4 linked regions of the Homo sapiens genome follow. The protein of the gene in region 2 purifies or fractionates together with the protein of the main gene of each other region. This does not show direct contact. Each region holds a gene or a part of one and is shown on either strand. Other genes may lie near its edges. The genes, in order: APOOL, SLC15A1, IPO11 and OMA1.

Evidence for each region.
Region 1: the proteins of SLC15A1 (region 2) and APOOL purify together in Homo sapiens (affinity purification with mass spectrometry; 2 studies listed by BioGRID and IntAct, with this or other methods). This does not show direct contact.
Region 3: the proteins of SLC15A1 (region 2) and IPO11 purify together in Homo sapiens (affinity purification with mass spectrometry; 2 studies listed by BioGRID and IntAct, with this or other methods). This does not show direct contact.
Region 4: the proteins of SLC15A1 (region 2) and OMA1 purify together in Homo sapiens (affinity purification with mass spectrometry; 2 studies listed by BioGRID and IntAct, with this or other methods). This does not show direct contact.

The regions. Positions count from the first base shown.
Region 1 is NC_000023.11:85,000,027-85,006,900, reverse strand, and holds the start of APOOL (MICOS complex subunit MIC27 precursor), read right to left. Parts: upstream 3,025-6,874; 5' UTR 2,989-3,024; coding exon 2,974-2,988; intron 1-2,973. UniProt on the Homo sapiens protein: Component of the MICOS complex, a large protein complex of the mitochondrial inner membrane that plays crucial roles in the maintenance of crista junctions, inner membrane architecture, and formation of contact sites to the outer membrane.
Region 2 is NC_000013.11:98,683,265-98,686,675, reverse strand, and holds the end of SLC15A1 (solute carrier family 15 member 1), read left to right. Parts: intron 1-378; coding exon 379-486; intron 487-1,760; coding exon 1,761-1,952; 3' UTR 1,953-2,875; downstream 2,876-3,411. UniProt on the Homo sapiens protein: Electrogenic proton-coupled amino-acid transporter that transports oligopeptides of 2 to 4 amino acids with a preference for dipeptides. Transports neutral and monovalently charged peptides with a proton to peptide stoichiometry of 1:1 or 2:1.
Region 3 is NC_000005.10:62,485,735-62,492,773, forward strand, and holds part of IPO11 (importin-11), read left to right. Parts: intron 1-2,036; coding exon 2,037-2,127; intron 2,128-3,567; coding exon 3,568-3,615; intron 3,616-4,380; coding exon 4,381-4,486; intron 4,487-7,039. UniProt on the Homo sapiens protein: Functions in nuclear protein import as nuclear transport receptor. Serves as receptor for nuclear localization signals (NLS) in cargo substrates.
Region 4 is NC_000001.11:58,536,688-58,543,726, forward strand, and holds part of OMA1 (metalloendopeptidase OMA1, mitochondrial precursor), read right to left. Parts: intron 2,624-7,039; 5' UTR 2,608-2,623; coding exon 2,108-2,607; intron 55-2,107; coding exon 1-54. UniProt on the Homo sapiens protein: Metalloprotease that is part of the quality control system in the inner membrane of mitochondria. Activated in response to various mitochondrial stress, leading to the proteolytic cleavage of target proteins, such as OPA1, UQCC3 and DELE1.

The sequences.
Region 1 (6,874 bases), on a different chromosome or scaffold from region 2:
TAAGAGTCCAGGTTCAGGACTCATACCATGTGATTTCAGATCCAGCTCTACCACTTTACTCCTGTGTGACCTTGGAGTTACTTGACCTTTTTAAGCTTCTGTTTCCCTACCTGTAAAAAGTGATTAATATAAATTCCTACTCATAGGGCCAATGTGAAACATAAATGAGAGAATCCACATAAAGTGCTTAGCAAAATTCCTAGCACGTAGTCAATATTCAATAACACAATAGCTGTAAATACTATTATCTTTCCCTCTAGATACCTCCTGGTACATTTTCCCTTGTCTCCAAAGTAGCTCAAGTCTTCTGTCTCCTGTTTTGTTTTTAGTTTTTTTTTTTTTTAATTAAAAGACACCTTTTCTGGAATTTGCTACCCTCATTCCAAGATTTTGTTCCTTCTTTTCACCACCAAACTTCTCTAAAGAGTAATGTATAACTCCTTTCCAGAGGAAGCAAGGAGGAGTGGAAAGACTTTGGAGATAAATATACTGTTTGAACCTAGTTCTTCCACTTAGTGGTTGTATGACCTGGAGCAAGCAGTTTTTCTAAGCCTCCGTTTTTCCATCTGTAAAATGGATATATTACCCATTTCTTAGGGTCATCAAGAGGATTAAACTAAAATAATATATGTAAATCATCTGGCCAAAGTGGGTGCTAAATGAATGCCAGTTCTCCATCCCTTATTCTTTTCTTAACCCCATACAATCTTGGTTGTTCCTCTACCACTCTATTTATCTCTTTAGCTCACTTCAGCTCTTATTAGCATGGTTTTGAATAATCTGACTTCTCTAAACCTTAATTTTCATGTGTAAAATGGTAATAATACCCACCACATAAAGTTGTCTTGAGAATTAGTGAATTAACACATGTAACGTGTTTTAGCATAGTGCCTGGCCTGGAGTAAGCACTTAATAAATGATAACAGCAGCAACTTATTAATGGTGAAATCAAAGGACTGTTCAACTCTCTTCTTCTCAATGAAAACACACTATTCTGGTTTGCTTTTTGCCACTGACCATTCCTTCTGTCTCTGCACCTTCTCCATGAAGCCTCTTTTTACTCTCTTCAAACCAAGTGTGAGCTCTCTCCTTTTGAGCGTCAGAGCACTTTGTACTTCTCTTCAGGTAAGAAACTCCCCTTACTCTGAATCACAGTCATTTGTGTTATATGTGTTATATCTCCACCACTTAATCTCTTCTGTCCTCATTGCCTGGCACTTTATTCATGTAGAACATGTTGACTACCTAATATACATCAGACCTGTGCTAGGTACTACGGATACAAAGGTTAATATAATTACTGTCTTCAAGGAGCTTATAGTTTAGGTAGCTAGAACAGACAAGTAAGTAGTCTATATGTGCAGTGGAATAAATGCTTGGTTAAGAGTGTGCCCAGAGTCCTCTGGGAGCACAAACAAGAGTTATTAAAATAGACTGGCGAGGACCGGGCGTGGTGGCTCACGCCTGTAATCCCAGTACTTTGGGAGGCCCGGGGGGGGGGGGGGGTGAATCACGAGGTCAGGAGTTCGAGACCAGCGTGACCAACATGGTGAAACCCCGTCTCTACTAAAAAATAAAAATAAAAAAATTTAGCCGGGCATGGTTGGCATGCGCCTGTAGTCCCAGCTACTCAGGAGACTGAGGCAGGAGAATCGCCTGAACCCGGGAGGTGGAGGTTGCAGTGAGCTGAGATCGCGCCACTGCACTCAAGCCTGGGAGACAGAGAGAGACTCCGTCTCAAAAATAAAAAATAAAATAAAATAAAATAGACTGGGGAGATCAAGGACACTATTAAACAAGGCATTTTTGTGTTTTGCATATGGGGAGGCTGTACACAAATAGCTGCTGAATGAATGAATGAACTATAAATACAACTAGATAAGCATGGGAAAAGGCACTTTAGGCCCAGAGAAAGAGCACGTAAAAAAGCATGGCGGGGTCAAGCAAGCAGCTCAGTATCGACAGGAGGAGGGTTCCTGAGTGACAAGAGATGAGGCTGGAAAGTCTAGGTAAAATCAGATGTTCTAGACATAAGAGTATGGCCTGACCCCAGAGGGGAGATGATGACATGCCCATAAAATTTTTTAAATGCGGGGGGAGGCAAAAATCAAATTTGCATTTTGGTAGATGTACTCTGGCAACACAGAGGAAAACAGATTACATGAGAGCCAGGCTTGAGGTGGCAAGTTCAGGTAGGAGGTTGTTCAAATAACTCAGATGAAGTATGAGAACCAGAACTGTAGACGCTGCCGACTTAAAACTTCAGCGGAACTGAATTATTCATACTGTATCTCCTGCAAGCCTAACAGAATATTTTACAATTAAAACCCGCTACGTAAATATCTGTAGACTACCATTATTAAACACTACTTAGGGAACTGCAGCAAGCTGCCAGCTGAGTCACTCACTGTACACGGACTCCCAAGTAAAGGCACCTTTCCCAAGCGTAAAACTCGAAAGGAACAGGTTATTCGAGCACAGAAAGCAACAACACTATGTGTAAACCAGCGCACTGCTGAAAGACTATGGGACCTCTCTATCCTGGTCAGTTTCACCCCAAATGTTTCAACAAAGTCCTTCCATAGGGTCATGTGGCCTTGCCCTGTGCGCCGAGACAAATGCCAAGTTTATATATATATTTTTCTCTTTATTGCAGCTGAAGACCGAAACGTCTACTGCGGCTCGTCGCCTGGCCAGCCATTTTCACCCAGCCGTTTCCCAGTTTTGTACTGTGCCACTGTGTAAATCGACAACCACAGGGGATTGAGGGAGCAGCGTCCCAGGCTGATAAAACCCTAATGGGGAAAGGCAGGTGTCTTGAGGCTTCAAACGATAAAGATTGCAATTATCTCAAAACCCACCTCCACCCTGCCCCTTGTTTCAGGGCTCCTTCAGAAGTTAGTAGGATCCCTTTTACAGTTACCGGGATGCTATCGGCACCCACAGAAATTAAGCAAGTTGGTTTTCGCTTACCCTGATGGCCGCCATGTCTACAACCCTTTCGGCCAAGGTTTTCAGACGGAGAGCAGAGAGGGACAAATCAGTTCGACTAGGCTTCCCTTAGGACAGCCCCACCCCGTTACGCCCCTTGCCTGCCAGTTACCGCCTTTTCTCCGCCCTCCTCCAGCCGCCTTGGCAACTGCTGCGGTTTCGGTCAGCTGTCTTCTGGAGAAACTGTTCACCCCTGTGGTTGACCCTCCCGGTCCCAGATAAAGCCTTCCAGAACATTATCAATAGTCCAGTTGGGAGTTATTTTCCTGGGTGCAGAACTTTTAATTATTTTGTTTCGGGCATATGTGATATGTCCAGATAAGGACTTAATACCCAAATGTAGCTGCTTTAATAATTAATTATATAGTAAGAAAAACAACTTATTACCTCTGCGAAACATGGGTAAGTTCATTCATTCTAAAACTAAGTCACGGAGAGCATACTCTGTGCCGGGCAGTTGTTCGGGGCATAGACAAAACATAGTGGCTTCCTCACAGAGCTTATGATTACAGGAGTAAAAGAGACAAATGAGGCCGGCGCGGTGGCTCACGCCTGTAATCCTGGCACTTTGGGAGGCCGAGACGGGCGGATCACGAGGTCAGGAGATCGAGACCATCCTGGCTAACACGGTGAAACTCCGTCTCTACTAAAAGTACAAAAAAAATTAGCCGGGCGTAGTAGCGGGCGCCTGCAGTCCCAGCTACTCGGGAGGCTGAGGCAGGAGACTGGCGTGAACCCGGGAGGCGGAGCTTGCAGTAAGCGGAGATCGCGCCACTGCACTTCAGCCTGGGCGACAGAGCGAGACTCCGTCTCAAAAAAATAAATAAATAAATAAAAATAAATAATAAATTTTAAAAAAGAGACAAATGCTATGAAGGAAAATAAAACAGTATGGGAATGAGGTGGGAGTTTACTGGTTTATATCAATGAGAGAAAGACTCTGATAAGCTCATTTGATAAAAGTCCTGGAGGAATTTAGAGAAGAGGGTTGCATACGGAAGGAACAGCAATGAAAAAGTCCAGTGAGGCTGGAGCAATAATTTCAGAGGTAGCGAAGTAACACAGTGTAGGGGCTTTCGTGCCGCCAAAATAAATTTGGATTTTATGCTGAATAAGATGGGAAATCATTGGAGGATTTTGAGCAAAGGTGTGATGTGATCTAATTTACATTTTTAAAGGATGATTTTGGTGCTATCAGGAGAATATACTAAGGGTATATTGCAATATTCACAACAGGAGCAAGGTCTGCTGTAGGCCTCCCTGAAGGATTCTGAGGAAAGAAGATGCTCATAATATGCCCATTAACAGTCCCAATATTAATTCATGTATTCATTCATTCAATCAACAAATATTTATTATGTGCAAACTATATACTAGGCATTAGTTGATACCTATCACATTTCATACCCAAAACAGATCCTTTTTAACAGAACTGTCCTGTAAATGACAAAATTATTTTAAGAAATAATGATGAAATGAAACTAATAATACTGGCTACAAAAGAAACATTGAGTGACTATTTTCTTTTATTGAACTTAATATAAACATATACATACATATATATGCCAATATAAAAATAAAATGCAAAATAAATAGTACAGAACCAAAAAAGGAAAAAAATGGATCAAGGTGTTTTAATTGCATTAATGTATTTTTCAAAGGAAAAATACTTATATCTACATAGTGGTCTGCCACAGGAATGAATAATAATATTACAGTTTCTGTTTTTGAGCCTTAACCTCTGTGTATTTGTCAATAATTTCATCCAAATTTAACATTTCTGCATATTAAATAAATGGTATACCTAGATTTGTCAAGCTAACTTTGTTCATAACTGATTGATGCACACTTTTTATTGATTTTAATATCAGTCAGGTTTATTTCACAATAATCAACAGGCAAATAAGAAAAGTCTTAAAATTGTGAATAAGCTTAGAATAAATTTATAACAATCTTATTTCCCAAAAATTTCAGGAATTTCAATAACACCCATGTTTTGTTGTTGTAGTTGTTGTTGTTGCTTCTTTTCCAACTTTAACTTTTATTTTGGGTTTGGGTACATGTGCCGGTTTGTTATACAGGAAAATTGCATGTCAAGTGGGTTTGACATACAGATTATTTCCTCACCCAGGTAATAAGCATAGCACTTGATAGGTAGTTTTTCAATCCTCACATTCCTTCCACCTTCCACCGTCAAGTAGGCCCCAGTGTCTATTGTTTCCATCTTTATGTCTATGCATACTCACCATTTAGTTCCCACTTATAAGTCAGAACCTGCAGTATTTGGTTTTCTGTTCCTGCACTAGTTCACTGAGGATAATGGCTTCCAGCTCCACCCATGGTGCTGCCAAGGATATGATCTTATTCTTTTTTATGTTTTTGATGGCTGCATAGTATTCCATGGTATATATGTATCACATTTTCTTTATCCAGTCTACTGTTGATGGGCATTTAGGTTGAGTCAATGTCTTTGCTAGTGAGAATAGTGCTGTAATGAGCAGACCCATGCATGTGTCTTTATAGTAGAATGACTTATATTCCTTTGGGTATATACCCAATAATGGACTCCCTATTCAATAAATGGTGCTGGGAAAACTGGTGAGCCATAGGCAGAAGACTGAAACTGGACCCCTTCCTTATACTATAATAAAAAATTAACTCAAGATAGATTAAAGACTTAAATGTAAAACTCAAAACTATAAAAACCCTGAAAGACAACCTAGGCAATGCCATTCTGGACACAGGAACTAGCAAAGATTTCATGACAAAGACACCAAAATCATTGCAACAAAAGCAAAAACTGACAAATGGGATCTAATTAAACTAAAGAGCTTCTGCACAGCAAAAGAAACCATCAATAAACAGATAGCCTACAGAATGGGAGAAAATAATATCCAGCTTCTGTAAGGAATTTAAACAAATTTACAAGAAAATCAAACAACCCCATTAAAAAGTGGGCAAAGGACATGAACAGACACTTCTCAAAAGGAGATATACATGCGGCCAACAAGCATATGAAAAAAAGTTAAATATCAGTGATCATTAGAGAAATGTAAATCAAAATCACAATGAGATACCATCTCACACCAGTCAGAATGGCTATTATTAAAAAGTCAAAAAAATAACAGATGCTGGTGAGGTTGCAGAGAAAAGGGAACACTAATACACTGTTGGTGGGAGTGTAAATTAGTTCAACGATTATAGAAAGCAGTGTGGCAATTCCTCAAAGAGCTAGAAACAGAAATACCATTCAACTGAGCAATCCCATTACCGAGTAAATACACAAAAGAATGTAAATGGTTCTATCATGAAGACACATACACACATATGTTTATTGCAGCACTATTCCCAATAACAGACATGGAATCAACGTAAATGCCCAATCACTATAGACTGGGTAAAGAAAATGTGGTACATATATGCCATGAAATACTACACAGCCAAAAAAAGAATGATATCATGTCCTTTGAAGCAACATAGATGGAGCTGGAGGCCTTTATTTTAAACTAATGCAGGAACAGAAAACCAAATATCACATGCTCTCACTTATAAGCGGGAGCCAAATGATGAGAGCATGTGAACATAAAGAGGGGAACAACAGACATTGGGGCCCACTTGAGGGTAGAGGGTGGGAGGAGGGAGAGGGTCAGAAAAAATAACTATTTGGTGCTAGGCTTAGTACCTGGGTGATGAAATAATCTGTACAACAAACCCCTATAACACAATTTTACCTATATAACAAACCTGCACATGTACCCAAGAACCTAAAATAAAAGTTTTTAAAAAAGTAAATAAATAAAAACAATATTAACTTTTTCAATCCAAAAATAGAAAAAAATTCATAATTTCCTTACACTCATCTTTTCCTATATGAACAATCAAG
Region 2 (3,411 bases):
TGGCAGGAAAGCCACAGAAGGGCAAGCTTGCAGCCCAGGGCAGCCTGCATTTGAGGGGAAGACTATGCCAGGCTGGGTGGCTTTGCTTGGAAGCTCTCCTGTAGAAATAGGATCAGCTCCTCCGTAGATGTGTCCATTTAACTAAGGGGACAGCTTTGCAAGGATGTGGAGCGTGAAACACAGGAATTCTTGTCTACTCGTCTGTGCATGTTTGGGTGTCTTGTTACTTAAGTGATGATCCTTTTTACATTGAGGCCACCTGACTTTTCGTGTGCATTGTTAGGGTGATCTGCTTCACGAAACGCCCATCGGTGAGCTGTGTTCTCCTGCTCGGAGGGTGAGACCTGGAGCAGGACTCACTTTGCTTTGCTTCCTCAGGCTCCTTCCAACATGAAGTCGGTGCTTCAGGCAGGATGGCTGCTGACCGTGGCTGTTGGCAACATCATTGTGCTCATCGTGGCAGGGGCAGGCCAGTTCAGCAAACAGGTATGGCGTGGGAGAGGAGATTGCACATACCTCTGTCTTTCCTGTTCATGGTCATCATGGTGGCCTTCCCTAGCCATCTGTGTGCTCTGTGTGGTCATCTAGGCTAATAGCTGGATTAAACTGCCAGACCAGCCAGGGCTGTTCCCAAATAGCCTTATGGCAAAGTGTCTGCTGTTTCTTCTTCTTCTTCTTTTTTTTTTTTTTTGAGACGGAGTCTCACTCTATTGCCCAGCTGGAGTGCAGTGGCGCAATCTTGGCTCACTGCAACCTCCGCCTCTCGGGTTCAAGTGATTCTTCTGCCTCAGCCTCCAGAGTAGCTGAGCCTACAGGCACCCACCACCACACCCGGCTAATGTTTGTATTTTTAGTAGAGACAGTGTTTCACCATGTTGGCCAGGATGGTCTCGATCTCTTGACCTCGCTATCTGCCCACCTTGGCCCCCCAAAGTGCTGGGAGGTGTGAGCCACTGCACCTGGCCTGATGATTCTTCTTATTCCCACTTGTTGTTAACGCAGCTGGAAATTGACAACCAAAATAGCTGGAATGGGTTAACTTGAAGTTGCCCTTATGTGTTTTACTATCAAGGGAAACATCTCTCCTAGCTTCAGTGAATGCAGCTTAGCAGCTGCAAAGCAGACACATGTTATCCTGGAACTTTCATAACACCTGAAGTTAAAGCCATCCTAGAGTTGGTTATAAATTTTCCAGCTAAAATTAAATGAGGGCTCTACTGATACTTACACTCTTTCCTTCTGCACTGTAGCATGTCTGCCTCATAAGGGAGCTGTTATCCCATCCGTTTCATGACTTCCTGCACCAGGTCCCAGCAGCAGATGTGCTAATGCTGTGTGCTTATGAGCTCCAGGTGTTTCCAAGGAGGAACGTGGGGCTCTTAACTTGCTGGAGTTCAGCATATTCATTTTTCCCTTGTGGGGACTGCTTGCTGTTCTCTTGGTCCCCATCCTTCCAGGTCCAGCCACATGTCTTAAGGCTTCAGTATTTCAGAAATTTTCTCTCATCTTCCCAAAGTCTGTTGTTTCTGTACCTTAGTGCTGTTCAAAACATGTTGTCTATATTAGCATCTATCTATCTTGGGCATTCCAGAAAAGCTGGGCTTACTGTATCTGTATTGGTTGCTTACCAATTTTCCATAATTTAATTTCAAAGCACTCTCCATCTGCATGTAGCAAGAACATGTACGCACCATATATTCATCAGTATGACCTGTTTTATTTTTGTTCTTTTTCCTGCTCCAACTCTGATTTCTTCAAAGTGGGCCGAGTACATTCTATTTGCCGCGTTGCTTCTGGTCGTCTGTGTAATTTTTGCCATCATGGCTCGGTTCTATACTTACATCAACCCAGCGGAGATCGAAGCTCAATTTGATGAGGATGAAAAGAAAAACAGACTGGAAAAGAGTAACCCATATTTCATGTCAGGGGCCAATTCACAGAAACAGATGTGAAGGTCAGGAGGCAAGTGGAGGATGGACTGGGCCCGCAGATGCCCTGACCTCTGCCCCCAGGTAGCAGGACACTCCATTGGATGGCCCCTGATGAGGAAGACTTCAGAATTGGGAACTAAACCATGAATGCTATTTTCTTTTTTCTTTTTCTTTTCTTTTTTTTTTTTTTTTTTTTTTTGAGACAGAGTTTTGCTCTTGTTGTCCAGGCTGGAGTGCAATGGCACGATCTCAGCTCACTGCAACCTCCGCCTCCCAGGTTCAAGTAATTCTCCTGCCTCAGCCTCCCGAGTGGCTGGGATTAGCGGCATGCACCACCACGCCCAGCTATTTTTGTATTTTTAGTAGAGATGGGGTTTCACCATGTTGGCCAGGATGGTCTCGATCTCTTGACCTGGTGATCTGCCCACCTCGGCCTGCCAAAGTGCTGGGATTACAGGCTTGAGCTACCGCGCCCGGCCGTGAACGCTATTTTCTAAGCAGCCAGCAGTGAATCTAAAACTCTGGAAGAAGTCTTCTGTTTGAAAGGCTTATTTAAGCCACACGTACACACACTGTCTTAGAGTACTGTGAGCCCACCCCACATTGGTCATCTTCCCTATCACACAAATGATGTTATTTTGGACTAGCTTAATTTTGAAATGGTAACAAAGTTTCCTATTCCATACTGTTCATTTCTAATACTCTTACGAAAACTATTCTAAAGGAGGCAGGAGCCAAGGCCAAAAGTGAACGTACAGGTTTGAAATGGCTGTGATAAGGACCAGCTGGTATTAACTGATAACTTTACCTTTGGGTTTTTGTTATTTTGTTTTTCTAGTCCCTACCTGTGTTTAAATTATGGATAACTCGAAAGACAGCTCAGGTGAAGGCCAGTAATGATTTTTTTGAAGTTTCAATGGTGTGAAATAAATTTCTGTTCTTAAGCCTAAGTGTTCATGTATCTCTGGGTAGGGTAAGAAATCTTTAACATCCTATCTGATTATAAAAGCAGCACCTGCTCATTAAAATTTCTTCCTGGTCCTGTTTTCCCCAGGGATGATTGATTGATTGGTTGATTGATACATAGGCAGACAAACAGATAAAGAAAGGTAGATAGGCAGATAGATAGATGATAGATAGATAGATTAGATAGATAGATGAACAGATAAAGGTAGGTAGGTAGATGATCGATAGATAGATAGACAGACAAACAGATAAAGGTAGGTAGGTAGATAGAAGATAGATAGATAGGCCGGGCACAGTGGCTCACGCCTGTAATCCCAGCACTTTGGGAGGTAGAGGCGGGTGGATCATGAGGTCAGGAGATCAAGACCATCCTGGCTAACACGGTGAAACCCCATCTCTACTAAAAATATAAAAAATTAGCTGGGTGTGGTGGCAGACGCCTGTAGTCCCAGCTACTGGGGAGGCTGAGGCAGGAGAATGGCGTGAACCTGGGAGGCGGAGCTTGCAGTGAGCT
Region 3 (7,039 bases), on a different chromosome or scaffold from region 2:
AACTCTTCAGGAATCTGAGGCAGGAGGATTGTTTGAGCCCAGGAGGTTGAGGCTGCCGTGTGCCATGATGATGCCACTGCGTTCTAGCCTGGATTACAAAGCAAAACCCGTCTCTTAAAAAAAAAAAAAAAAAAATTAAAGATTCCCAACATTAAGTCAGACAGATAAGAAACTGTTTATAAGAAACTAAGAACTATATTCATATTAAATTATGACGTTTAATCTGAGTTTTTTTTCTTTTTTCTTTTTCTTTTTTTTTTTTTTTGAGACAGAATCTCACTCTGTTGCCCAGGCTGGAGTGCACTGGTGCATCTCGGCTCACTGCAAGCTCCGCCCCCTGGGTTCATGCCATTCTCCTGCCTCAGCCTCCCGAGTAGCTGGGAATACAGGCGCCCGCCACCACGCCCAGCTAATTTTTTGTTTATTTAGTAGAGACGGGGTTTCATCTTGTTAGCCAGGTTGGTCTCGATCTCCTGACCTCGTGAGCCACCCGCCTCGGCCTCCCTAAGTGCTGGGATTACAGGCGTGAGCCACTGTGCCTGGCCTTTTCTTTTGTTTAACTTGGGGTCGGAAAACAAATTTTTTCTTCATCTTTTAGTACATTGCTTGGGAAATAATTGTCATTACACAAATAGAAAATGTTTGTCAAACTGAAAGCTGCCATTCTTAAGCTAGAATTTTTTCCTTCTATATATTTCATTAGTAAAGTTTCTTTTGGTATGTTATTTCTCTTACCACTTCATGTGATTCTCAGAGACTAGCCCATTGCTTTCAGTTATAGGATACTTTTACAACGCATTTATTAATATGACAAATGTTTTGCCGTTACCAGATGTGATGTTTGAGCTCTTCTTTTTAAGATTTGCACTTACATAATTTACATAATTAGCTATTTGTCTTCTAAAAATGTTATCTTTAATGTTTTTAGATTCATAAACATACAGTTGTTAACCAGAGAGATTACTGGTGATTTTAAAACTTTAAAAAATTTCATTCCTTTAATTTTTAAAAGTTTCTTTTATGGAGAAGTTTAAACATATTAAAAAATAGAATAATATAATGAGCCCTTCATGATAAGCTAGTTTATTAGTTATCAACTCATGGCTACTTTAGCTTCCTGTAAACATCTCCCAGTGTTGATGGTTATCTGAGATGACACATCCTCTGACCATATTTCAGTGTGTATATTTATAATGTTCCTTTTAAAACACCACACAATACCTTAAAAATTTAATTAAAAAATTTAAATATTGTGAACGATCTAGTGATTAAATTCCTTTTTAAAATTTAAATAAAAAATTATTTTAAAAAATTTTTTGTGGGTACATAGTAGGTGTACATATTTATGGGGTACATGAGATGTTTTGATACCAGCATGCAATGTGAAATGATTCAGTACTTTTAAGAACCAAACAAATCATTTTTTTAAATGTAGCTAATGCTAATTTCTGTTACCGCTTGTGTTTGTTAAGAGAAAGGCTACTTTATTTGGCAAATTGGAGTTCCTGTTTTTGCTTATTATATCATTGCTAAGAAAATACATAATAGCTACTCGGGAGGCTGAAGCAGGGGAATCGCTTGAACCTGGGAGGTGGAGGTTGCAGTGAGCCGAAATCACACCACTGCACTCCAGCCTGGTGACAGAGTGAGACTGTGTCTCAAAAAAAAAAGAATCTTGGGTAGTCAGCCATTTATAGTACTGAGCTATAAATGAGTGGCTACAGAATGCTTTTTAAATTTAAGGTATGATTAATTTAAAATGTACACTTTGCTTGCCATAGTTTTAAGTTTTTGAATGCGTAATGACAAATAATTGAAATGAAATCAACTTTCTTTTATTAATTATAATTCGATTTTGTTTTCCTTTGTGTTGGTTATAAAAAAATGGTAACCTTACTTTTTTTTTTTAACAAATCAAAAGTTGGAAACATTTTCAAAGTTTTAGAATTTTAAGATTAAGTATTTGCTTTATTAAAGAATTAGTCAATATAGTATGCAACTGTTTTGATGAGAAATTTGTATTTTTCCCTCTCCAGCCATGCACTGAAGTATTATTTATAGATATATTCCATGAATATAATCAGACTCTTACTCCTGTACTTCTAGAAATGATGCAAACACTTCAAGGTAAGGCATATTTTGTGATTAACTTTGAGTTAATCTCTTTAACGTTTAGTTAAGAAATAGTCTGAGTGCCTACAATGCATACTGTACTGTTTCCTGGGTCATATAATAAATATGAATTTGAGAAAAACAATTTTAAAACTTATTATCTTCCAAGGGGGTGGCATTTGAGATAGGCCTTGAATTATAGTTTGGACGATGATAAATTTTCCTGTAGTAAATACAATAGAAGCAAAAGCAAAACAGTAGTCATACTGCTTGCAGAAAGTCTATCTGGAGCGTGTTGTGAGAAATAGTGAGAAAAGGTTAAAATAGTGTTAGCCTCTCTTAGAATGGTGGCAGTGGGAATGGAAATAATTGATTATGGATTTGAGAGAAAATGATGATGTAAATTTTTGACACTTGGTCATTACACTTTGTACACAAGTAACTAATTATCTGCCTATTAACTAACATTGATTTATGATTTCTGTCTTTTCTGCTAGACTGTAAGTCCTAGGGGCATTGATCACGTCTGTTTTGTTTATATTTTATTCCCAGTGCTGGGCATATTCAGTAACTATTGTTACTTGATTGACTTTTAGCAACCGATTGAATGTGCTAGGCAAGGAAAAGTGATCAAAGATGATCCTAAACTTTTGAGCCTTAATGACAAGGAAACAGTTACCTCATTAGAAGTGGTAGGAGATAGAGATATACTTTCGGAGTGCATGTATGTAAGGAGCCTTGGGAAAAGAAAAGAGGATCTTAAGGACAGAACCTGAGATTTTCACCTATAGGGATATGAGTAAATAAAAGCCTTGTAAAAATGCCAGGTGTAGTGGTGTATCCTAGAGAAGAGCATGTTGTCAGAATGAGTGTTGGCCAGGCATGGTGACTCACGCCTGTAATTCCAGCACTTTGGGAGGCTGAGGTGGGCAGATCACTTGAGCCCAGGAGTCCCAGACCAGCCTGGACAACATGGCAAAAACCTGTCGCTACAAAAATTAGGAAAATTAGCTGGGCCTGGTGGTTAGTACCTGTAGTCCTAGCTATTCAGAAGGCTGAGGTTGGAGGATCATTTGAGCGCAGGAGGATGAGGCTGCAGTGAACTGAGAAAACCTCACTCCACTGTACTCCAGCCTGGGTGACAAAGCAAGACCTTGTCTCAAAAAAAATAATTTTGTGGTATATAGCACATTAGCATTTTGTGGTGTATATTTTCTAGAATATTGCTTGTCATAACATTTTTCAAATATGCTATAATGGTTTTTAATCCTGTGTTCTCTAATGATAATCATAAAACTTAGACTTTCCCTTTGTACTTGTGTCCATTTTTGACACCATGAAATGTGTTATACTTAATTGAATTGGGAAACTAACAAATTGTGTTTAAATATAAATTTTTTAAAAAACTAGTTTTATTTGCTTTTACTGATACCTATTTATATATATATTTTTTAGGACCCACAAATGTGGAAGATATGAATGCACTGTTAATCAAAGATGCTGGTATGTTAAACTTAAGTGATTTAGAAGCATTTATTTATTCAGTAGATGGAGAGTCTGTTTTGTGGTAGATTTTGTGCTGAGGGTGTTGAGATACAAGAGTAACTAAAATACAGGAACAATCTGATTGGGGAGATAACCAAGTAAACAGATAATGTATTATAATAATACTATACAGGATAGTTAATGCTAAAGTAGGTGATGATCACCAGATAGTTTGGTGTGTCTAAGGAAAGATTCCCAAAGAAGTGTAATGGAAGAACACAAGGATAAGTAGGAGTTACACGTGTGAGGAGGTGGTGATGGAAAGAGGGTGTTGCATTCCAGGGAGATGGAGCAATAAGTACAAAGACTTGAAGGAAAGAGGAGGAAGCACAGTTAGAATTTGAATTGTGACTATTTTGGTTTAACTGGAACATTGGGGTTAAAGGTTGAGTTGAGGCTGGAGAGAGTTAAGTAGGGACCAGATCATAAAATATTACATCCATTTTAGAAGCAGGCATTATTTTATAATTTTTATAGTTGGACTTAAATATTTTAGAATGAATTGAATTATCTGTTTGAAAGTAGTAAGGAATATTTAGGAAAAACATGAAGTAAAATAGTGTTTCTAAAATAAATTATTTCTTCTACTTAAATTATTTCTACTTAAATAATTTCCCTGATTAGCATATTGTGTGTTTCCTTTAATTAACATATGTTTCATACACTCATTTGCAGATCTGATATCTGAAACCTTTAATTTTTTTTCTTAAATTTTCTTCTCAGTGTATAATGCTGTTGGATTAGCTGCTTATGAGCTCTTTGACAGTGTTGATTTTGATCAGTGGTTTAAAAACCAGCTTCTTCCAGAATTACAAGTCATTCACAATAGGCAAGTATAAAATTTTATATTTATTATACACTTACTTTACCTTATTTATTTTATTAATGAAGACAGGAAGGCATTAAAATGGCTTACAATTTAAAAAATGCAATCGTATAAGTTAGGTAATGTCTTATGTGGAAAGGAATAAGAATTTTGACATCTAGGAAGTATTTGATATATCAGGTAGTTTGCAGGAGAAAAGGAGGACTTTATGCAAAGATGAGGGAGGATGGAGGTCTCTGAGTTCAAGAAACTATGCCTAAGAAAAAGACAGTTCGAAACTTAGCAGGATGTATGCCTAGTGTCAGAAGTAGCCTAATCAAAGTAACATCTGTGAAAGATGAATGTCTTGGGATCACATAATGCATACTGCAAGTCTCTGGGGAGACGGTAGAGTAGGATATAGAGACATCATGGCAAAAATATTTGAATACCCTTTCTAAGTTCTAATTGAGGTACCTAATTAAATAGTACAGATTCATATTACATTTAGTAATATGAATTATGAAATGAATTAATTTAGTACATTTAATAGCACATTTGCCCAATTCTATTTTTTTTGAAATAGTCTCATTTTGTCACCCAGCCTGGAGTGCAGTGGTGCAATCTCAGCTCACTGCAACCTCCACCTCCCAGGTCCAAGCGATTCTTGTGCCTCAGTCTCCTGAGTAGCAGGGATTACAGGCGCATGCCACCACACCTGGCCAGCCCAATTCTTACGTTTTATATACATTTAAGCACTTGTCTACTTAAATTTTAGGTATTGAATGCATAAAATGAAAGGAAAAACCTCTTTCATAGTTTATAAAATTATTTCTTAGTTTAAAATTGGAGAATTTGAAAAAATTCTAAGGGGCTTTTTTCTTAATTTGAAGGATACACTTCTACTGATTCACTTCAGTATACCTGGGGCCTATCAGAATACTTAGCATATAGTCATAGATAGTTAATATTTGTTGACTAAACTAATGAATGCATAGGTCACATTTAGAGCCACAGAATTTGTAGAGCTGGAGATACTCTAAAAGTAATTCTTAACAGTAAGTAGCTGTTTATCTCTTCAGTTATTCAATCATTTATTCAGTTAACATATATTTTTAACACTTGGAATTTGCCATGTCCTATAGGCGGTGTTAAATAAAATAGACTCTGACTTAGTCTCAGGGAGCTAGTGAGCCTTTGATGGAGAGAAAGCTTTCATTGGCGAAACAAATGTGCAGTTTAGTTGTCCTTAAACCCTAGAGGCTATTTAGTGTAAGACCTTCACTGTCCAGTGCAGAAGCTCCCTACGTGTAGCTATTGAGCACTTGAAATGTGCTTAGTGCAACTGAGGCAACAACTTTCCAATTTTAATTAATTTAAATTTAAAATTTAAAGCCATGTAAAATATTTATTGATTACATGTTGAAATGATATTTTGGATATATTGGGATATGTAAAAATATTAATAAGTTTTTTTTTTTTTTTTTGAGATGGAGTCTTGCTCTGTTGCCCAGGCTGTAGTGCAGTGGCGCGATCTCGACTCACTGCAAGCTCTGCCTCCCGGGTTCATGCCGTTCTCCTGCCTCAGCCTCCCCAGTAGCTGGGACTACAGGTGCCCGCCACCATGCCCGGCTAATTTTTTTGTATTTTTTTTTAGTAGAGACGAGGTTTCACTGTGTTAGCCAGGATGATCTCGATCTCCTGACCTCGTGATCTGCCCGCCTTGGCCTCCCAAAGAATAAGATTTTGTTTCTTTTCTCTTATAATGTGGGTACTAAAAAATTAAAATAACATATGTGGCCTGCATTATATTTCTAATGGACAAAGCTGATGTAGACCAGTGTTTCTCAAACTTTAATGTACATATGAGTCACCTGGTAATCTTGTTAAAGTTTAGGTTTTGACTTAGTAGGTCTGGGAAAAATCAAGCAATGCACACATTAAATAGCAAAGTGATCTATACTTTTACTTCTGTTTGGATGTGTCTATGAGTTTGGAATTTTACCTTTCTGAGTTTCATATTCTTTATCTGGAACAGAGTCTAATATGGTCTTAGTCCCAAAATTGATGGTTCTTTGGTGCTTTTACCTCACTCTACACAAGTTGTTACTTCTGCCTCTGTCACTTGGTTCAAACAGTTTCTGTCCCTTGAAATGACATTTTTCCACCCTTTGGCTCCAATATTGTTTATCTCAAAGACTTGCTCAGATTCCGTCTGTCTCTGCCCATTTCTTCTCTTCCTTTTCTAAAGTCCTAGTACACTACTTTGTGTTTTTAAATTCCTTTAGGTGTGTTATAAACTTCTTGGGGGCAGGGAATACTTACATACTTTTTTTTGTAACTTTATTTATGTTATTTAATTTTTGAGATGGGGTCTCACTTTGTCACCCAGGCTAGAGTGCAGTGCCATGATGTTGGCCCACTGCAATCTCTGCTTCCTGGGCTCAAGTGATCCTCCCACCTCTGCCTCCTGAGCAGCTGGGACCACGATGTGTGCCACCATGCCCAGCTATTTTTGTGTAGTTTTGGTAGGGTTTTATCATATTGGCCAGGCTGGTCTCAAACTCCTGAGCTCAA
Region 4 (7,039 bases), on a different chromosome or scaffold from region 2:
TTAACTACTTCCTTCTTGTTAGGAGGAAGTGCCTGCCACCATTTCCTTATGCCCCTAAAGCAAAAAGAAAAATTCAAAGTTCTGAAAATCATTCCAGCACATATCACTAAAGCTCAAATGCATACACTAGAATTTTACGTCCTCAAATACCTGAATTTGTATGATGTATTTCGCTGAATACATCGCTTTTCCAATTAATAAAATTCTTAGCTAAATGATGAAAAAATAATCAATGATGTAAAGTTACAGTTAAAAAATTCTAATACTCATCGAAATTTTCTTCTTCAGCTATTTTAAGGATAAACACTAAATGAGATGCTAGTTTACTATAACTACCACTGGTTAATATTTATTACTATCTAGTACATGCAAAATTCTCTCTCTCTCTCTCTCTCTCTGTATATATATATATACCATCTCATTTAATCTTCATAATAACCCTGTTACAGAAGATAAAATTGTTAGGTAACTTGTCCATGGCCACTGAGGTAATAAAAGGAAAACCAAGCAATGAAGGCAATGACATTCCAGAGTCTGACCACTTAGCCACTTAATAGGGATAAATGCCTAAATAATTATGTAAGAGGTTACAGTACAATAAATCTATACCTGGAACCACTACTTTTCCCACTGCTCCTCAGACCTCCAACACAATTTGCCAGTGATTCCACAAGGTACAAGGGAAACTGCCTCAGCATTCATTTTGGAAATAAATAGTGCTCAGTAGCAGAAACTCCACTATCCTCTTTACAACGTGAAAAAGGAGAGATAACAAGATCCTAGGTATTCATAAGAAAGTGGGAGATTTTATAGATAACATCTGAGAAGGTCCAATTTCTACCAGGCAACAATACTCTCTGCCACTTAGCAGTGTTCAGAAACATTTTGACAACAAGCAATGTTTTCAATACTGGGACAAAAATTTTCCTTATGAGTTGATCTGTAAAATCACAACAAAAATTTACCATATATACATCATTCTCTTGACAAAAATTTATTTTACAAATTCTTAAAGTTCTCTTTGTGAAGTGACACACCCCAATGCCTTTACACAAAGTGTGTCCATTTAAAGGGACATAAATCAAACTATCGAGTATACTTATTTCCTATTTAAAACTTTACATGACATTATCCTTTATTTAAAATGTATGAAAGACATATTCTAAATGAAAAATTTTAGGTGATCAACAATAGTAACAAAAACAAGAAAGTTACAAATAAATAATTTAAAAGGATGAGGACATAGCAGAAATCAGAAAGAGCATCCGAAGAACCTGGGATGAGCGTATTACTTCAACCAATAGTCAATACAGCTGTATCGCTTTTGGGTGCCAACACCAAATCATGAAAAACACAATAAGTTACAAATAGAAGTTCTTGGTTTTTGATCAAAAGCAAACTGGTTTGGTTCATGTGGTAGTAAGAAGGCTAGAAGGGACTTCACAGTCATCAAACACAAGAAAGCTTTATGAAGAAACAGTGATTAGCTTTCTTCCATCTTCATAAAACAAACAAGAGAAAAAGGGTTAAAGCACTACAAGCTGTGAAAATATTATTATAAAGGATCACCAAGGAAAAAAACAAAGATTTGTTGGGAACAGAATAGAAAGAAAAGAAGCATTAATGACTTAAGAGTTAACTAGGAGTGAGCCCACCCTTATATAAGCAAAGTTCCTCAATTTTATGATTTGCTGCCTTAAATTCCACAAATTAAAAAGAAATGTTTGTAAGTACTCTTCTTATACATAAGTGATAACCAGCACTTCTGATCCATATATCCTAAGATTTTGTAGTCATAAATATAAGATTTTTTTAATGCCTATACAAAATGTAAGAATAACTTTTTAAAGAGATATTTCTATACCATAAATTAGTATGCAGGAAATTGTTTCAAGATTATTAAATCATACAGAACAAAATTGGGCAGGACCTACTGTTTAGAAACTTCACTTTGAGCTAAATGGGGGGAGACAGGGGATCTGGCAAGGTTTCTTTAAAAGTACAGTTTTATAAATAAAAAAATTAATTTCTAAAAGTTAATACGTTAGCACAAAATATTAATGCAAAAAGTTAATATAAAAGTTTTTATTCTAAAAAAGCATTTTACCTGCCTACAATGATTGCAAATAACTTCTGTACTGGTTTAAGAATCATCAACAAGAGAGGAACCGGAGCAGCTTGAAACCGTGGAGAAGTATGGAAATTCCTAATAGCTCTTATGGAAGCAGGGCTTAGAGGATGCAATACTGACAGACTAGGGACTGCTGTAACTTCTTTTATTAGCAGCTGTCTTGAAAAAGCATCATTCCATACAGTACATTTGCTGGTAATCCTCCAAATTTCCTTACTTTTGGTACTTGAGAGGCCTCCTGTTCTTTTGTTGTTAAAAGTACTATAAAAATGAAAGTTTCCAGGCAGAAAACTCCACCTGTCACACTGATTTACTCCCAGTCCCTGATACTTATTTACTATATGGTTAACTTGTACTTGATGACAGCCCCGTGAGGTGGATGCTAATGTGTTACATTTTCTCCAGTTAGACAGTGAATTAAATCGGAAGAAAACATGGTTTCTAGCAGCAGACTGCAATCCACAGATGAAGCTCATTTTTTCACTTGACTACCTGAAACAAAAAAAAAACTATAAATATCTGTGGAAAATATTTACTTACCAAACTGGGACTATAACACTTATTAAATAGGCGTGTCAGTTGTTCTTCTAACACATCTCAGGCTAAATTACCTTGGGTTTCAACTCATCACCCCTAGAGCAACGCCTTTCAGCAAGATAAACCAGAGTATATATACCACGATATTTACTATGCAACGTTTACTTTAGAAGCTTGAATTTTTTTCATTTCATTTTTAATTTTTAGTTAGGGAAGAGCCATTTGTATTTTAATGGCAAATGATTTGAGCAATAAAGTGGATTAGATAAAAACAACAGTAAAACTTTATCAGTTTGCAATAACTGGAAGGAAGCATGTGATACAGAATAGTAAAATCTAACTTATAAAATGCACTGGACATTACGCAATGAAGAACAGTGATCCCTAACAGATGGGAAACAGAGCCCTACAACTGTCCTAGCTTATTGCCTGGAGAGTGCTTCCAGGCCACAATGCAGACAGGGTAAACCTAGGTGGAGCCCAGTGGTTCCCCTAAATCGAAGAGATAAAGCTGGGAGGTCAAGTAAACCAAGGTTGCTAGAGCTCACAGGACAGAGGACAAGAGAAGACAAGAGCTGCACAGAGAAATAACTCTAGAGTTCTGCAGAGAATCCCCCTCCCATATTCAGCTGAGTCCTGTCTGGGCATATGTGTAAGAAAATTCCCTGGAGCTGGGAAAGGGCCACCTGAAAAGATTGCAGGGAATAATATACAGGGCTCACACAGGGCATGGTATACTGCCTATCCCCTCCCCACCATTCAAAGTGGAAAACCTTATCATTCGTGGGTAGAGTACTCAGAAGGGTTTTGCCTCAACATTAGAGAAAGATTAGTCTGAGACCGAAAGCTGCTCTGGCCCCACCTAACAAATATTAAAAGCAACCCCCAAAAAGATTAAATGCTTCCAAGCAACAACTGCATCCCAGGAAAAAAAAAAAATCTAAACAGGTATTAGGACACAAAACTATTTAACACTTAACAAGGTGCAATTTATAATTAAAAATCACCAAGCATGCAAGCAGCAAGATATGTGATCCACAATTAGAAGAAATATCAATCAGTGGAAACTAACTCCTAAATAAACAAATAACAGCATTAGTAGATAAGGATATTAGTTATTGTAACTATACTGCACATGTTTAAGAAGCTAAAGGAAAATATGAGCATGTTATGTAGAGATATGTAATATATTTCTTTAAAAGACCTAAACTTTTAGACAAGAAAACTGTAAGAACTAAGATGAAAAACATACTAGATGAGACTAACAGCAGATTAACATTGTAGAAATAAAGATTTGTGACTTTGAAGACGTATCAATAGAAACCATCTAAAATGAAATACAGAGAAAAAATACAATAATAAAAAAAGGCACAGGGCATCAATGAGGTATGCAATAACTTCAAGTGGCCTAATATTCATCTAACTGAAGTCCCCAAAAAGCGGGGAGGAGGTGTAGACAGAAAAAAAAAACACTTGAAATAATGGCCAAAAGTTTTCCAAACTTGATGAAAATTATAAAACCACAAATTCAAAAAGTTTAACAAATCCTACACAAAAGAAACACAAAGGAAAAAAACTACAAGGCACATAACTTCTTAAAATCAATGAAAGATAAAATCTTAAACTTGACATCTTAGGTGAACTGTATAAATTCATTGAAAAACACAAAAAAAGCTGGGCATGGTGGCTCACGCCTGTAATCCCAGCACTTTGGGAGGCCGAGGCAGGTGGATCATTTGAGGTCAGGCATTCGAGGCGTGAAACCCCGTCTCTACTAAAAATACAAAAATTAGGCAGGTGTGGTGGCACTTGCCTGTAATCCCAGCTACTCAGGAGGCTGAGGCAGGAGAATCGCTTGAACCCGGGAGGCGGAGGTTGCAGTGAGCCGAGATGACGCCACTGCATTCCAGCCTGGGCAACAGAGTGAGACTCTGTCTCAAAAAAAAAAAAAAAAAAAAAAAAAAAAAAAAAAAAAAAACAGGAAAAACACAAGAAAGTACATACTCTGATTACATCTCTATAATATAAACTGCAAAAAATGCAAACTAATCCATAGTGACAGAGAGATGAGTGACTGCTTGAGGAGTTGTAGGAAAAAAGCAGCAGGGGAAGGGATTACAAAGAGTGGTGCTTGCCTGTAAACCCAGCTACTTGGGAGGCTGAGGCAGGAGAATCACTTGAACCTGGGAGGCAAGAGACTGCAGTGAGCCAAAATTGTGCCACTACACTCCGGCGTGGGCAACAGAATGAGAACCTGTCAAAAAAAAAAAAAAAAAAAAAAAAAAACCAAAAACAAAAAACAAAAAAACCCAGATTGAGGGAATCTAAATATGAATTGAATTTCAAGTTGTTTTAGGTAATTATTATTTTCTTAGGTGATAATATTGTGGTTATCTGACTATTTTATTCCTGAGATACTTGCTGAAGGATCTGTTCATGATAAATAAAACTCACTTTCAAATTGTACAGCAAAGGTACACACACAAAGGACATAAAGTCAATAAACAAAATATCAGCAATCATTGTATCTCAGTGATAGTTACATATGTGTTCCTTAAATTTTTCTGCATGTTTCAAAATCTTCATATAAAAGTTGGGGAAAAAAATATGTAAACTTCAACCTAAGCTAATACGATATTATCTAGAAAGATGCTCCAGGACTACCAGTTTTAATAGTATTATCTATATATCAAACCATTTGAAAATTACTCAAATTTATTTTTTATGTAATTCATACATCCTGCCCTTGCACTGTTAATGTATAATGTTAATAAAGGGCATGCTAAGTAAAACATTAACTTTGAGTTAACCCTTTTTGAAATACAACCAATTTTAAATTAGTAAAGTCCAGGCTGATATATAATAGTTTGACATTATTAACAAGATACTTTGTTTTTACTTTTTTGAACCAAGCTGAAAAATTGTTAAATAATTTAAGCCTAGAAGTCATTTCACAATTCATACTGGAGTAGCTAGTAAGGTTTTCATTGGCTAGGGGCCATGAGAGTTATGCAGCACAGAATATAGTCCTGCTCTCATGGAGGTTATAATCTAGTTGGGGAGACAAAACTGAACCTAAGTAAGACTATTAGGGGATAATAAAATTCAGTTATTAAATACTACATACTGTATGCATTCTTAAAAAGACATCCATGAGTAGCTGAAGAGTTCAGGAAGGCAGCAATTATTTTTCATGCCATTTAGGCAGATGCAGAAAGACAAAAAAAAATGGAAAGAACTGTTTTAAATGGGAAAGTGTTTTAAGGTTTAAATGTAAAGTCTTCTTCTAGAAGTCAAACTGCAAAAACAACCCAAGCCCACTTTCTTTCCTTGACCTCAAATCTGATGATTTACTGTAGTAGATAAGCTTCAGACACTTGCCCAAGCACAAGTCCTTTTCCAAATGTGCATCTTACAGCCTCATTTTAGGGGACAGGCTTAGACGGCCACATTCATCCCTAGCAACCCCTACCATTAGCTACAGAGCTAGGAGTAGGTATTTGATACTGAAAAGATTTTACATAAAACAGTATTCCGCACAGGAATATAAGGGCATGTGTAAGTTGGGTCTACAGCGGGTGCTATGGCTAAACAAAGCAATATGAAAGCAAGAACTACAAACAAAAAGCTTTTTTAAAAAAAAAAAAGTGGATCCACAGAAAAGACAATGGACTATTAAGTGTAGACAGAAGATAAGTGAGAGACCACAAAGCCAGAGTGAATATGAGAGAATAAGACCTCCCTGATTCCCATGAAACCATTGTACTTCCTACACTTAATTGAGCTTCATGAGCTTTTACTTTATCCCCAAAATAATGCGCTTTCTTCAATGAGTTTCTGTATTCTGCAAATAAATGATCTCTAAGACGTTTACATGGTATAAAACAGTTATACATTTGTTTTTGTAAATTGACAGCATTTTAATATTATACATGTTGTTTACTGGAACTAGCTGAGGGTTCCTCCTACACTTTGCAAAGCCAAATTTACCAATTTTCAACATTTAATCAGTTCCAGAAATACTGGATTATCTCTACAGCAACTTTAGCATCCAAAATATCTCAGCCCACATTAAATCAGTCATGTCAATTCTACCTCCTTCTTATCTCATTCTAGCCTTTCCTGGGCTCTGTGGTCTTATGGTGTTGATCACTACCCACCTAATCTCCCTGCCTTATTTCACCACTAACCCCTCCCACTACAGTTTGACCCCAAACTAGAGCTAAAGCATTATTTCTAAAATGCAAACCCTGGCAACAGAATCCTACCCCGACAATTAACATACAGTCCTACCCTGGTAAATACCAGGTAATCATTTAAAAAATGACATGATGATCTGTAAATCTTTAAAAGATTTAAAAGATAGCAATC